Homo sapiens: one gene and its partners. The protein of the gene in region 1 purifies or fractionates together with the protein of each later gene. This does not show direct contact. Each region holds a gene or a part of one and is shown on either strand. Other genes may lie near its edges.

The links.
Region 2: the proteins of ZC3H3 (region 1) and PABPC3 purify together in Homo sapiens (affinity purification with mass spectrometry; 3 studies listed by BioGRID and IntAct, with this or other methods). This does not show direct contact.
Region 3: the proteins of ZC3H3 (region 1) and DDX21 purify together in Homo sapiens (affinity purification with mass spectrometry; 3 studies listed by BioGRID and IntAct, with this or other methods). This does not show direct contact.
Region 4: the proteins of ZC3H3 (region 1) and BRIX1 purify together in Homo sapiens (affinity purification with mass spectrometry; 3 studies listed by BioGRID and IntAct, with this or other methods). This does not show direct contact.

Annotation. Positions count from the first base shown.
Region 1 is NC_000008.11:143,461,448-143,464,947, reverse strand, and holds part of ZC3H3 (zinc finger CCCH domain-containing protein 3), read left to right. Parts: intron 1-3,500. UniProt on the Homo sapiens protein: Required for the export of polyadenylated mRNAs from the nucleus. Enhances ACVR1B-induced SMAD-dependent transcription. Binds to single-stranded DNA but not to double-stranded DNA in vitro. Involved in RNA cleavage.
Region 2 is NC_000013.11:25,094,965-25,098,935, forward strand, and holds the start of PABPC3 (polyadenylate-binding protein 3), read left to right. Parts: upstream 1-1,171; 5' UTR 1,172-1,234; coding exon 1,235-3,130; 3' UTR 3,131-3,971. UniProt on the Homo sapiens protein: Binds the poly(A) tail of mRNA. May be involved in cytoplasmic regulatory processes of mRNA metabolism. Binds poly(A) with a slightly lower affinity as compared to PABPC1.
Region 3 is NC_000010.11:68,980,170-68,982,868, forward strand, and holds part of DDX21 (nucleolar RNA helicase 2), read left to right. Parts: intron 1-1,367; coding exon 1,368-1,412; intron 1,413-2,373; coding exon 2,374-2,643; 3' UTR 2,644-2,699.
Region 4 is NC_000005.10:34,922,211-34,925,710, reverse strand, and holds part of BRIX1 (ribosome biogenesis protein BRX1 homolog), read right to left. Parts: intron 3,495-3,500; coding exon 3,424-3,494; intron 3,173-3,423; coding exon 3,123-3,172; intron 3,017-3,122; coding exon 2,943-3,016; intron 2,711-2,942; coding exon 2,660-2,710; intron 2,579-2,659; coding exon 2,477-2,578; intron 865-2,476; coding exon 736-864; intron 486-735; coding exon 216-485; 3' UTR 1-215. UniProt on the Homo sapiens protein: Required for biogenesis of the 60S ribosomal subunit.

The DNA.
Region 1 (3,500 bases):
CCCGGGTACAAGCCCCCTCTACCCCAGCCTCTCACGCCTGTTTCTCTCCCCGCCCTGGGGGCTCCTGCACCTGGCCTAAGGCTTGTGGCTGAGGCTGGGGGCCTCCTGGCTCAGGCTGGGGAGGGGCCAGAGCTGGGGGACCTGGAGATGCTCCTTGTCCCTGGCATCTTGGGAGGGAGCCCCGGGGCCTGCAGCACGGCTCACTGCCACCTGGACCTCACACTTGTGTTGGCGCTGCCTCAGGGTCTGCAGCCCCCGTGAAGCCGAGAACACCAGGCACCCCAGGAACCCTTTCTCAGCCCACCCGCAAGGACACCGGGCCCGAAGCTCTGGCGGCTCTCCTGCCCCTCCCTTGCTGGGTTCACCTGTGGGGTCCTGTAGAAGCTGGGCCACGCACTCCTTCCTGTGCACAGCGTTCTGTGGTGGGCCGGGCCCTTCCCAAGCATCCTCTCCCTCATCCTCAGTCCTCACACCCACTTCCCAGGAGGAGTCAGCCTGCAGCCCCTGCTGCCGGGCCAAGGGTTGGCCAGGCCGGGCTCCCCAACCTGAAACCTGGCAGGCAATCCCCTCCGGGGAGGTAGGGCCTGGCTGGGGCAGCCCCAGACCCTGTGGGGGCAGTGGCAGGATCCCCATGGAGGCCATGGCTGATTATTGTAAAATGTTTCGATTTAAATGAAAATATCAAAGTGATATTTAGGTCCTGCTTCTATTAGTGGAAGTGCTTACTGCTGCCTTTCCGTGTGTCCGCGCCGCGGCGCCCGCATGATGGATAGCAGCTTGTAATTATATATGGGAAAGCGCTGAGCCGGCCAGATCCAGCGGGGACAGGCGGCAGCCCGGGCCTGCGAGGGTTAATTTTATTCTCTAAATAATGTGAAAAGTGCTGAATCGTCACCTTGCGCCTGAAGTAGAAGTCCTCAAATGGGCCCCAGAGAGTTTATAATATTCCACTGAATCAAGTGAAATTGTTAACCTTGCTTCATAAAGCGATGGCTTGTTAAAGAGCCACATTCCCTTTCCTTGTGAATAATTTAGGCTGGGAGTAAATCTCCGCTCCTTCCCCTTTTGGGGGGCCACGGCTGTGGCTCAGGGGTCAACCTCTGCCAGATGCCGCCTGCCCTCCTAGATATCAGGACGGGGATGACTTCAGACTGCCTGTTTGTACACACCTGCGGGGTCTGCCACGTCCTGCCCAGACCCGGAGACGCAGAGTCCTCCCCAGTAGGCGTCCCTGTCCTGGTGCAGCGCTGTTTTCCTCCCTTGCCTCAGGCGCTCGCTCCATCCTTGTCAAAGGGATCTCCCCGGCTGATACGTCTTGCTGGGGGGAGACTCTGAGACTAGAAAACTCCACCTTCTCCCCTTAGTCTTAATAGCCAGCTGTGTCTGTCTGCTGTCAAATTCTGATCCGCGGCCGGCGTCCTTGAACGGAAGAGTTTTCCCTCCTCCGTGCTCACCGCTCGCCTGTTTGTCCACGGGTGTGTCCGGCTGTGTCCATTGCCGTCCCCTTTTAATATGCTGCCCTGCCAGGGCTCCTGCCCTTATGATGTGCCTGACAGTTTCTGCACCCTTGCTTGCTTTCTGGCACCCAGATGCTCCCAGCACCCGGCGGCTCTGGGACAGCCGCTCCTGGCTCCTTATGGGTGTGTTTAAGACTCAGGGTCTGGGCCGGGCGCGGTGGCTCACACCTGTAATCCCAACACTTTGGGAGGCCGAGGCAGGTGGATCACCTGAGGTCAGGAGTTCAAAACCAGCTTGGCCAACATGGTGAAACCCCATCTCTACTAAAAATACGAAAAGTTAGCCGGTTGTGGCGGCAAATGCCTGTAATCCCAGCTACTCGGGAGGCTGAGGCAGGAGAATTGCTGGAACCCGGGAGGTGGAGGTTGTGGTGAGCTGAGATTGCGCCACTGCACTCCAGCCTACGTGACAAGAGTGAGACTCTGTCTCAAAAAAAAAAAAAGAGACTCAGGGTCTGGGCGCTGCTCCTGGTGGCTCTAGGTGGGACAGCTGCTCCTGCAGGGCGCCCTGGTTCCTTCTGGGTGTGTTTAGGACTCAGGGTCTGGGCGCTGCGTGTGCTTGTTGCAGCTAGGGTGTTGGCTGCTGCCAGCGCCCCCAGTGCACAGGGCTGGGGAGCATCGTGTGCACGTGTGCAGGGGTGACAGTGACTCCATCCCCACCTCTGCATTGAGAGCTCCTGCACACCTTGGCCCTCCTGCATCTGCAGTGCCTGCTCCGTGAGCCTCCGCGCTGCCGTTTTCCCCACACCCTGTGTGTGGTTGGTGCCTGTCTGCAGGGAGCTGTCGGGAGAGGGAAGGCCCTGGCTGAGCCTTGGGTTTCAGCTCCCCAAGTGCGAGCTGAGACCTGAGTCACCTGGGATTCCCCTCACGCACACCCTGCCTTCATCCTCCAGGCTTGCAAGGGCTCCTGTGTCCTCTGGACAGCGCCTGTCTTGGTTTTGTTCACATACAGCGCTTCTCTGTTGGTGCCTTGCTTTCGCCAGTGCTGCCCTTTGTTAGGCCGAATCCTTCGTCCTTTATGAGGCAAGGTCCTGACATCCTTTGCCCTGTGATTTGTGCTCGGGGTCTTGTTTAGGACCAGTCTCCACCCATGGTCACAGAGTGCCTCCTGCATTGCCTGATGCTGGCTCAAGAGGCAGCTGTGGGTGTCGCTTGTCCCTGCACGGTTACTTCCTCCTCTGGCCTCAGTCTCCTTTTATATACAGTCGGGATAACGGCACTGCCTATCTCAGAGGGTCGTGGCGACTCTTCAGGGGGCCACAGTGGGCCTGGCAGTGTCCTGGGTGGCCCTGGCACAGGGAGGCCTCCCTACAAGTCGGCTGCCGTTTGCTGTTCTTCATTTGCGTGTTGTGTGAGGTGGGGCCTCACTTAGTTTTTCTTCATGTCGTGGGTGCTTTCCCTCAACGGTGATCTAACCCTTTGATCTGTGGTGTCAGCTTTAAAAAAAAAAAAAAAGCAGCTTAACTGAAGTACAGTTTCCCTCCCACACAATTCCTCTGCTCTAGGTGTATGGTTCTGTGGGTTTGAGTAAACTTAGAGTGGTACAGCTGCACCACAGCGCAGCTTTCAGTTGTTTTCATCGCCCCCCAGAATTCCCTCACTCTTTTCATCATCAGTCCCGGCCCCTAACACTCATCCACTTCTGTCTCGGTAAGTTTCTTCTGTGGGCCTTTCGTGTTGCTGGAATCATACAGTACATGGTTGTTTGGCATCTTTGATTTTGCATCATGTTTGGAGGTCTGTCCTGCAGCACCTCAGCGCTGCACCCGTTTTTATTACAGAGTCAAGCCGCTGCAGAGGCTCTCCACACTTTCTTTGTCCGTTCGGGTGGTTGCCAGTTGGGGGCTGTCGTGAATAATACTGCCTCGAATGTCCGCGCTCCAGCCTTTGTGTGGCCGATGCTTTTGCTTCTCTTGGGTAGACACCTAGGAGTGGAATTGCAGGGCCATAGGGTCACTGCAGGGCTACAGGGTCACTCTAGGT
Region 2 (3,971 bases), on another chromosome or scaffold:
TTCTTAAATAGAATTATTTCAGATCATCACTTACTTAGATGTGTAGCTATATTAGGTCACAAGATTGTGTACTTATAATCATAAAACGTATACTTAATAATGAATCCCAACCTGACCTCAAAAGACTATATCATATAATACTATATTAACATTACATATTTATTGGTCGGGCACGGTGGCTTACGCCTGTAATCCCAGCACTTTGGGAGGCCGAGGTGGGTGGATCACGAGGTCAGGAGTTCAAGATCAGCCTGGCCAAGATGGTGAAACCCCGTCTCTACTAAAAATACAAAAAATTAGCCAGGCTTGGTGGTGGGTGCCTGTAATCCCAGCTACTTTAGAAGCTGAGGCAGGAGAATCGCTTGAACCTGGGAGGTGGAGGTTGCAGTGAGCCGAGATCGCACCACTGCACTCCAGCCTGGGTGACAGAGCAAAACTCCGTCTCAAAAATAAATAAGTAAAATAAAAATAAATAAATGAAAAATAAAATTACATATTTATTATGTTTTATATTGTTATATAATATAAAAAGTCGGTTTTTCGGGGTTTTTTGTTTGTTTGTTTGTTTGTTTGAGATAGTCTCGCTCTGTCACCCAGACTAGAGGGCAGTGGCGCGATCTCTGCTCACTGCAACCTCCACCTCCCGGGTTCAAGCGATTCTCGTGCCTAGGCCTCCCGAGTAGCTGGGATTACAGGTGAGCACATCAAGCCCAGCTAATTTTTTGTAATTTTAGTAGAGACGAGGTAAAAAGTAGAAAATATTTTATAAAAATATATTTGTGTAAAGTAGAACATATATAAAAACATACTAAAGGAGAAAGGAGAAAAAAATTCTTTCATTTATTTTTTTCCCAGGCATTTTAAATTTGGATTATAAAAATCATTTTAGAAAAATCATTAATGCTCTTTTACAAAATAACCCGGTGAAGCAGCTGAGCCCGAGCCGCCCGCCAGCGGCCCCGCAGCAGCTCCAAGAAGGAACTAAGAGACCAAGGCCTTCCTGCTGCCCGGACCCGACACCGCTACCCTGGCTCCCCGCCGGCAGCCGGCAGCCAGCGGCAGCGGATCGACCCCGTTCTGCGGCCGTTGAGTAGTTTTCGATTTCGGCTGATTTTTGTCCCTCTGCGCTTGCCCCCGCTCCCCTCCCTCCGGCTACGCCCCCGGCCCCGGCACGCGCTCTACTCCTGTAACGGAAAGGTCGCGGCTTGTGTGCCTGCGGGCAGCCGTGCCGAGAATGAACCCCAGCACCCCCAGCTACCCAACGGCCTCGCTCTACGTGGGGGACCTCCACCCCGACGTGACTGAGGCGATGCTCTACGAGAAGTTCAGCCCGGCAGGGCCCATCCTCTCCATCCGGATCTGCAGGGACTTGATCACCAGCGGCTCCTCCAACTACGCGTATGTGAACTTCCAGCATACGAAGGACGCGGAGCATGCTCTGGACACCATGAATTTTGATGTTATAAAGGGCAAGCCAGTACGCATCATGTGGTCTCAGCGTGATCCATCACTTCGAAAAAGTGGAGTGGGCAACATATTCGTTAAAAATCTGGATAAGTCCATTAATAATAAAGCACTGTATGATACAGTTTCTGCTTTTGGTAACATCCTTTCGTGTAACGTGGTTTGTGATGAAAATGGTTCCAAGGGTTATGGATTTGTACACTTTGAGACACACGAAGCAGCTGAAAGAGCTATTAAAAAAATGAACGGAATGCTCCTAAATGGTCGCAAAGTATTTGTTGGACAATTTAAGTCTCGTAAAGAACGAGAAGCTGAACTTGGAGCTAGGGCAAAAGAGTTCCCCAATGTTTACATCAAGAATTTTGGAGAAGACATGGATGATGAGCGCCTTAAGGATCTCTTTGGCAAGTTCGGGCCCGCCTTAAGTGTGAAAGTAATGACCGATGAAAGTGGAAAATCCAAAGGATTTGGATTTGTAAGCTTTGAAAGGCATGAAGATGCACAGAAAGCTGTAGATGAGATGAATGGAAAGGAGCTCAATGGAAAACAAATTTACGTTGGTCGAGCTCAGAAAAAAGTGGAACGGCAGACGGAACTTAAGCGCACATTTGAACAGATGAAGCAAGATAGGATCACCAGATACCAGGTTGTTAATCTTTATGTGAAAAATCTTGATGATGGTATTGATGATGAACGTCTCCGGAAAGCGTTTTCTCCATTTGGTACAATCACTAGTGCAAAGGTTATGATGGAAGGTGGTCGCAGCAAAGGGTTTGGTTTTGTATGTTTCTCCTCCCCAGAAGAAGCCACTAAAGCAGTTACAGAAATGAACGGTAGAATTGTGGCCACAAAGCCATTGTATGTAGCTTTAGCTCAGCGCAAAGAAGAGCGCCAGGCTTACCTCACTAACGAGTATATGCAGAGAATGGCAAGTGTACGAGCTGTGCCCAACCAGCGAGCACCTCCTTCAGGTTACTTCATGACAGCTGTCCCACAGACTCAGAACCATGCTGCATACTATCCTCCTAGCCAAATTGCTCGACTAAGACCAAGTCCTCGCTGGACTGCTCAGGGTGCCAGACCTCATCCATTCCAAAATAAGCCCAGTGCTATCCGCCCAGGTGCTCCTAGAGTACCATTTAGTACTATGAGACCAGCTTCTTCACAGGTTCCACGAGTCATGTCAACGCAGCGTGTTGCTAACACATCAACACAGACAGTGGGTCCACGTCCTGCAGCTGCTGCTGCTGCTGCAGCTACCCCTGCTGTGCGCACGGTTCCACGGTATAAATATGCTGCGGGAGTTCGCAATCCTCAGCAACATCGTAATGCACAGCCACAAGTTACAATGCAACAGCTTGCTGTTCATGTACAAGGTCAGGAAACTTTGACTGCCTCCAGGTTGGCATCTGCCCCTCCTCAAAAGCAAAAGCAAATGTTAGGTGAACGGCTCTTTCCTCTTATTCAAGCCATGCACCCTACTCTTGCTGGGAAAATCACTGGCATGTTGTTGGAGATTGATAATTCAGAACTTCTTTATATGCTCGAGTCTCCAGAGTCACTCCGTTCTAAGGTTGATGAAGCTGTAGCTGTACTACAAGCCCACCAAGCTAAAGAGGCTACCCAGAAAGCAGTTAACAGTGCTACCGGTGTTCCAACTGTTTAAAATTGATCAGAGACCACGAAAAGAAATTTGTGCTTCACCGAAGAAAAATATCTAAACATCGAGAAACTATGGGAAAAAAAATTGCAAAATCTAAAATAAAAAATGCAAAATCTAAAATAAAAAATGGAAAGGAAACTTTGAACCTTATGTACCGAGCAAATGCAAGGTCTAGCAAATATAATGCTAGTCCTAGATTACTTATTGATTTAAAAACAAAAAAAAGATTACTTAATTTTGATTTAAAAACAAAAAATCGTAAAATACAAAAACCAGTTAATGTTTTGTAGACCCTGGGAAAAGAATTTTCAGCAAAGTACAAAAATTTAAAGCATTCCTTTAATTTTTTAATTCTTTACTGTGGAATAGCTCAAAATGTCCATTCTGTTTTAAGTAACAGAATTGATAACTGAGCAAGGAAACATGGTTTGGATTATAAAATTCTTGCTTTAATAAAAATTTCTTAAACAGTGAAAAAAAGAAAAATCATCAATTTTACTAATAGTCTTTCTTTACATTTTCTATTATTCTATCTCCCACTATATTTCAAATATGAAAATCACTTTTTCACCAAAATTTTAGGTCTTTACATAATAGTGTTTATTTTTAATATTCATAAATGAAAATATGCAATGACAAAATAGTAATTATAAATTCAGTAACATTTGTTCAAAATTGTAAGACAATTATTAATTTATACTGCATTATTTTTAAATAAAAAATAAATACATAGTTTTAAAAATCTAATTGAACAGGAGGCTAAACATGGTTCTGATCACAGAGATAATCACTTTTAATCATTTGGTTTTAGTGTTTCTGGTAGTTGATTTTCTTCAATAATAAT
Region 3 (2,699 bases), on another chromosome or scaffold:
GCAGAGGTTGCGGTGAGCCGAGATCGCGCCATTACACTCCAGCTTGGGCAACAAGAGTGAAACTCCGTCTTAAAAAAAAAATTTTATATATATATAAATCTTTTCCTCCAAAGTAGCTTTTATGACTTTGCTTAGCCTTAAATCTTACCAGGCAATGTTAGGGGCGTCTTTATCTGTACTTCAGAGTCTTTAGGACACATGTTTATGCAGGTAAACTTTTACCTTGCTGTGTTTGCTAATGGAGAGCCTCAAGAACACTCAAAGGCAAAAACTGTTTTCTAATTACCTCTATACCCAGTGAATGCCTGGGATTATACTCTACTTCGTAAATATGTAAGCGAAGATTCCCATGAATGGCAAAATCCACCAGTAGGTGATGATACCTATGTTATGATTGGGTAAATTTTGGGGTGAAAGGGGTGTTCCTTATAAAATATTGCAGTTGAAGACAGCAGGGAGAGGAGTGCCTGTATTAGTTAACACATAGTTTGACTATATTTTTAGACGATTTCCTTGATTGGAGAGGATGGCACTTAATATTAAAGATGGTGTCCTGGCTAGGTGCCATGGCTCACACCTGTAATCTCAGTATTTTGGGAGGCTGAGCTGGGAAGATAATTCTTGAGACCAGCCTGGGTAATGTAGTGAGACCCTGTCTCTACCAAAAAAAAAAAAAAAAAAAAGCCAGATGTAGTGGCATGCACCTGTAGGAATTCAAAGTTACAGTGAGTTGTTAATTGCACCACTGCACTCCAGCCTAGGCAGTAGAGCAAGACCCTATCTTAAGAGGGAAAAAAAAAAGATGGTGTCCTGTATTATTTTTTTCATACTCTTACAGAAGGCTGAATTAAGAAAAACCAGAAAATCAACAATAGAAGATCACTTGTTTTTCTGCTTTTAATTAGGTCATTCTGAATAGCTGGCATTGCTTTTCTGATGGAAGGCAGTATATAGTTTAGACTATAGGTTTTAGAGCCATACAGACTAGATTTTAAATACTTGTGCCATTTAATAGCTGTGGGGCCTTAGACAAGTCAGCTAACCTTTCCAAGCCTGTTTGCTCAGCAATAAAATGTAGCTAATAGCCACTAGGGGGTTAGCACAGTGTAATAGCTAAGACTCTGTCTATAGTTAGAAAGTTCTAAATCATTTGGGGTTCTTTTTTTCAATGTTCCTTGTCTTTCTGCAGTGTACTTTTGGCAGCTATAATGTATTAGCTTTGGTCTAAAGTTCATCTAAAATTATACCTGGTGGTTTTTTTGCTTTATGTTTTTTGTTTTCTTTTTTTTAAAGAATACGTGGTCTTTTAAAGGGAGTATTTTTCATGTGCGTTGGTTGGATTAACTTCCATTTGCTTTGATTTCTAGGGTGTTTGCTTTGATGTACCTACCGCATCAGTAACAGAAATACAGGTATTCTTTTCCCTTAGATTTTAAAGTTAACATACCTAAATTGTAGAATGTTAATTATGAAAATAGAGAATAATAGATTGGGAAACAATAGTTCTGGTTCCTTTAGTAAGAGATAATCGATAATTAAATTTTGGAATATTCCCCCCTAACTTTTTAATTCTGATATTTTTGTAGTTGAACCCACCTGGTTTCTATATTTCCTTTATACAAAGTTGTGAACGATATCCAGCTCTCCCCACCCTTTAACACTTATATATGGTATATAGATTTTGTGTGTGTGTGTGTGTGTGTGCATGTGTGTGTGTGTTTTCAGACAGAGTCTCGCTCTGTCGCCCAGGCTGGAGTGCAGTGGTGCAATCTCGGTTCACTGCTACCTCCGCCTCCCGGGTTCAAGCGATTCTCTTGCCTCAGCTTCCCAAGTAGCTGGGATTATAGGCCCATCACTACCCCCAGCTAATTTTTTGTATTTTTAGTAGAGACGGGGGTTTCGCCATGTTGGCCAGGCTGGTCTCGAACTCCTGACCGCGGGTGATCCACCCACCTCCCAAAGTGCTGGAATTACAGGCATGAGCCACCACGTCCAGCCTACAGGTTTTCATAGACATTTAAAATTGTTACATCTTTATTCAATACTGTGAGAAATGTGTGCTTAATATATTTGTTTTATTACCTTTGGCTGTAGATACCCTGTAGCAATTGAGTTGAATAAATGGTTTAATAACTTAATAAATGAAGTAGTGATGAGGGCTATTTCTCATAATGAAACTGTGTTTTCCCACACTTCAGGGACACTGGCTTTTGGACCATGATGGGTGGCCAGTGTTATTTTTGACCAGTGACTTGTTAAGCACTTATGTTATCACCTTTTCTTTGAAGAAGTGGCAAATATTTTGTTTTTCTCATGCTTTTTAAAAATTGAATACTAATTAAAGCACACAAAAACAAAACATTCTCTCAACAGGAGAAATGGCATGATTCACGACGCTGGCAGCTCTCTGTGGCCACAGAGCAACCAGAACTGGAAGGACCACGGGAAGGATATGGAGGCTTCAGGGGACAGCGGGAAGGCAGTCGAGGCTTCAGGGGACAGCGGGACGGAAACAGAAGATTCAGAGGACAGCGGGAAGGCAGTAGAGGCCCGAGAGGACAGCGATCAGGAGGTGGCAACAAAAGTAACAGATCCCAAAACAAAGGCCAGAAGCGGAGTTTCAGTAAAGCATTTGGTCAATAATTAGAAATAGAAGATTTATATAGCAAAAAGAGAATGATGTTTGGCAATATAGAACT
Region 4 (3,500 bases), on another chromosome or scaffold:
AACACAAACTTCAAAAAGAAATCAGAAATTAACTGATGAATTCTGGTGATATTTTATTTAGAAAAAGATAATCACTGATTTTAAGATCTTAATTTTTCTTTCTTGTAAATGCTACACTAATTAGACGTAAGATAGTATTAGATAATAAAAGTATTTACACATTGAATACAAAATAAATATAAAGTAACTGAAAAACAAATCAGGTTTCCATTGACTTATTTTGTTTTCCCACTGTCCATCCTCTGTTTCATTTTTCTTTGCCTTTTGTAAATCCGTTTCTTTCTTGCTTTCAAATCAACTTTTGGCTCTGGTTTTACCCACTGTATTTCTATTGGTTTCTCCTCAGCTGGTGTTACAAAAACATCTGCAGTGGGATCATGTGGAAGAAGAGTCTTCGGCTCTTTCTTTCTCAGTTTTTGCACATCTTTCACTTGCTGTTTCTCTCTGTATTTTGCAGCTGTGATGGATCTTATGACACGCCGATGCTAAAAAAAAAAAAAAAAGATTAGATGCTTTTGAAATAAAAATAAACATTTTATATAAGGCAAAGACTTTCAGTTATGAACCATATATCCTTTCAGCCAGTGTCATGAAAAAAGGGAGTAATTTCCAAGTTTCTATGCAGCAAAAACCAAATTCAGTTTCACAGGTAATAAAACAGCAATTACTTCACAGAATCATTTTGGCCAAAGGGTTCTGGTACATTGAAGACTACTGAATGACACAACCGCTTACCATGTTTGGTGACTGGTAGTGAGGATTTTCATATAAAGTTGGTCCTCCAAAACTTCCCTGGAAAATCTTTATGAGATTTAAGACAAAACGAGGTCCTATTTCTACAAGAGCAGCATCTTCTTCTATGATCTTTAATAAAAAGGAAACATTTCATTTTGGTTTGGTTACGTTATTCCCAAAAGGTATACTGGCTATAACCTCATTATAAATGTGCCTGAAATAATTGATAATCCATAAAATCAAGGTGGGGGTGAAACTTGGTAAATGGCAAATCATCAATATTTTCTGAAATCTATTAGTACTTATAGGAAGTTGTCATGGAAAAATGTTTTTTCAGTGAGTTCTTTTAAAATTGAGTAATTAGATTTTGGTTCACATCTTGCTTGTCACAATGCATATATCCTTGAAAAACTGGTTAAACAGGATTTTAAAACAGTAACCACTATTAACAAAATGTATTAAAGCACATTATGGGGGAACTCTTGAAACTTAAATCAATCCCTAAATTGTTTTTATAAATCTAATTCAAGTTAGATTAAAAGGATATGTAGTCAAATTTATTTAATAGCTACTGATTATGGAATTAAAAGGCAACTTCCGAACAACAAATATTTATGTTATCTATTAGTTCAGGCATGTCTACCCTCAGAGGTTAGGATGATGTGTTCAACTCACATGCCAGGTATCCAATATAAAATATGCAGAAAAGAGCTCAGTTTATGTCATATACTGTCTAAAATTTTGTTCTTGCTGTTCTCTTCCACCTCTTCATCTTTCTGCACTTATCGTGCCAAACTCCTGCTTCAAGATTTCTAGAGTCACCTCCTCTTTTCTCCTGAATGAGTCACTGTGTGACTCATCATCTAACCGCTGCCATTGAATGCCTTCTAGAGCAATTACATTTTGCTAGGTCTTAACCTTTGAGGTGCTTTGAGAGAGAAACTTCTAAGCTTTGAGAGAGAAACTTCTATTTTACTGTATCCTTTACAGCACTTTCTACAAATTAGGAACCCAAGTATCTCATGGATCTTCAAGTTATTCCCTTTCTATAAAGTTAAATATATAATGGCTTATTAGGAAATCCATACTCTGTATCAACTAACAGTCATGAATAGAAGTAGGTAGAGCTCACTTAAGATATAAGACAGTACATAGTTACTTGCAGCAATCTCTTTAGGGAAAAGGAAGCTATTTAAAACAAAAGAATTATTTGCATTTTTTGTGTATGCAAACCCTGTATATCCTTATCTAAAAGTTTAACTAAAAATTGACCAGGCACAGTGGCTCACAACTGCAATCCCACCTACTCAAGATGCTGAGGAGGAATGATTTGAGGCCAGGAGGTTCAAGGCCAACCTAGGCAACACTGCGACACTCTATCTCTAAAAAAAAAAATTAGGCCGGGTGTAGTGGCTCACGCCTGGAATCCCAGCACTTTGGGAGGCCAAGGCGGGCAGATGGCCTGAGGTCAGGAGTTTGAGACCAGCCTGGCCAACATGGCGAAACCCCGTCTCTACTAAAACTACAAAAATTAGCCAGGCGTGATGATGGGTGCTTGTAATCCCAGCTACTCAGGAGACTGAGGGAGCAGAAGCTTGAACCCGGGAGGTGGAGGTTGCAGTGAGCCAAGATTGTGCCACTGCAGTCCAGCCTGGGCAACAAGAGCGAGACTCTGTCTCAAAACATAAATAAATAAACTCAATTAAAAAAAAGGTATAATTAAAAATCAAGTAAAGCTTACCTGAAAGTTCCGAAACCATATCCTATTATCCAAAATGGTGAAAGTAAACACGTGGTCCACAAATGGTTGGCTTTTGGGATGATACCGTGGTGTACTAAAGATCTAGTTAAAAAAGTGTATGTTAGTTCCTTATTCCAAGATATATCATGTATATTTTGGATAGCTAATTTTAAAGATATTTACCTGAATTAAGAGTTCTTTTAACAAAGCATAATGTGGTAATTCATCAAAAGCCTATAAAAATAAGGTAAGCATATTATTTAACAGTAGACTGCCTTGTTTAAAACTGTTTGCTCATTTGTTTCTATAACTTGGCTATAACCTCATTATAAATGTACCTGAAAGAATTGATAATCCATAAAACCAAGGTGGGGGTGAAACTAAATTGAATAACACAACTATATCTACTAAAAACAACCATGCCAGATAAGAAAATTAGACCTCATACACTGAATGAGAAACTTACAGGGTCAAAAGACAAAAGGGGCCGAGAACCTTTCAAACAGTTTCCAGTCATCTTCAGTTCAGCGAGGGTATGAACTAGAAAAATTACAACAAAAACAAAAATAGTTGTAACTTTTGCACAACTATTTCAAAAGATTACTTTTAATTTCCTCATCTAAAAAAATTTATTGAGTCAACTTACTATTTTGAACAAGGAATTTAGCAGATGGTCCGTGAGGTGAATTTGAAAGCCTGAAAGATATGGAGTAAGCTTTTTCAACTAATTAGCAAATGTAGTCAATGCTTACCACCTATTCACCATAAATAATATGCTTATAATATTTATACATTTAATTTTCTTTAAAGGTATCAAGTTTCGTGAAATCAAAAGTTTGCTTCATTCTCAACCCTTAACATGAAACACTAGGAGTCTATAACATAAAAGGTACAAAGAACAAATCCACTTAAATGAGTTTAACCAAAATCTTAATACATTCTCTTACCACATATAGAGATCCTGTTTTTTCTTAGCTTCAAAATAGATGCATTTATTACAGTTCTTCATTTCACAAACCTAAAG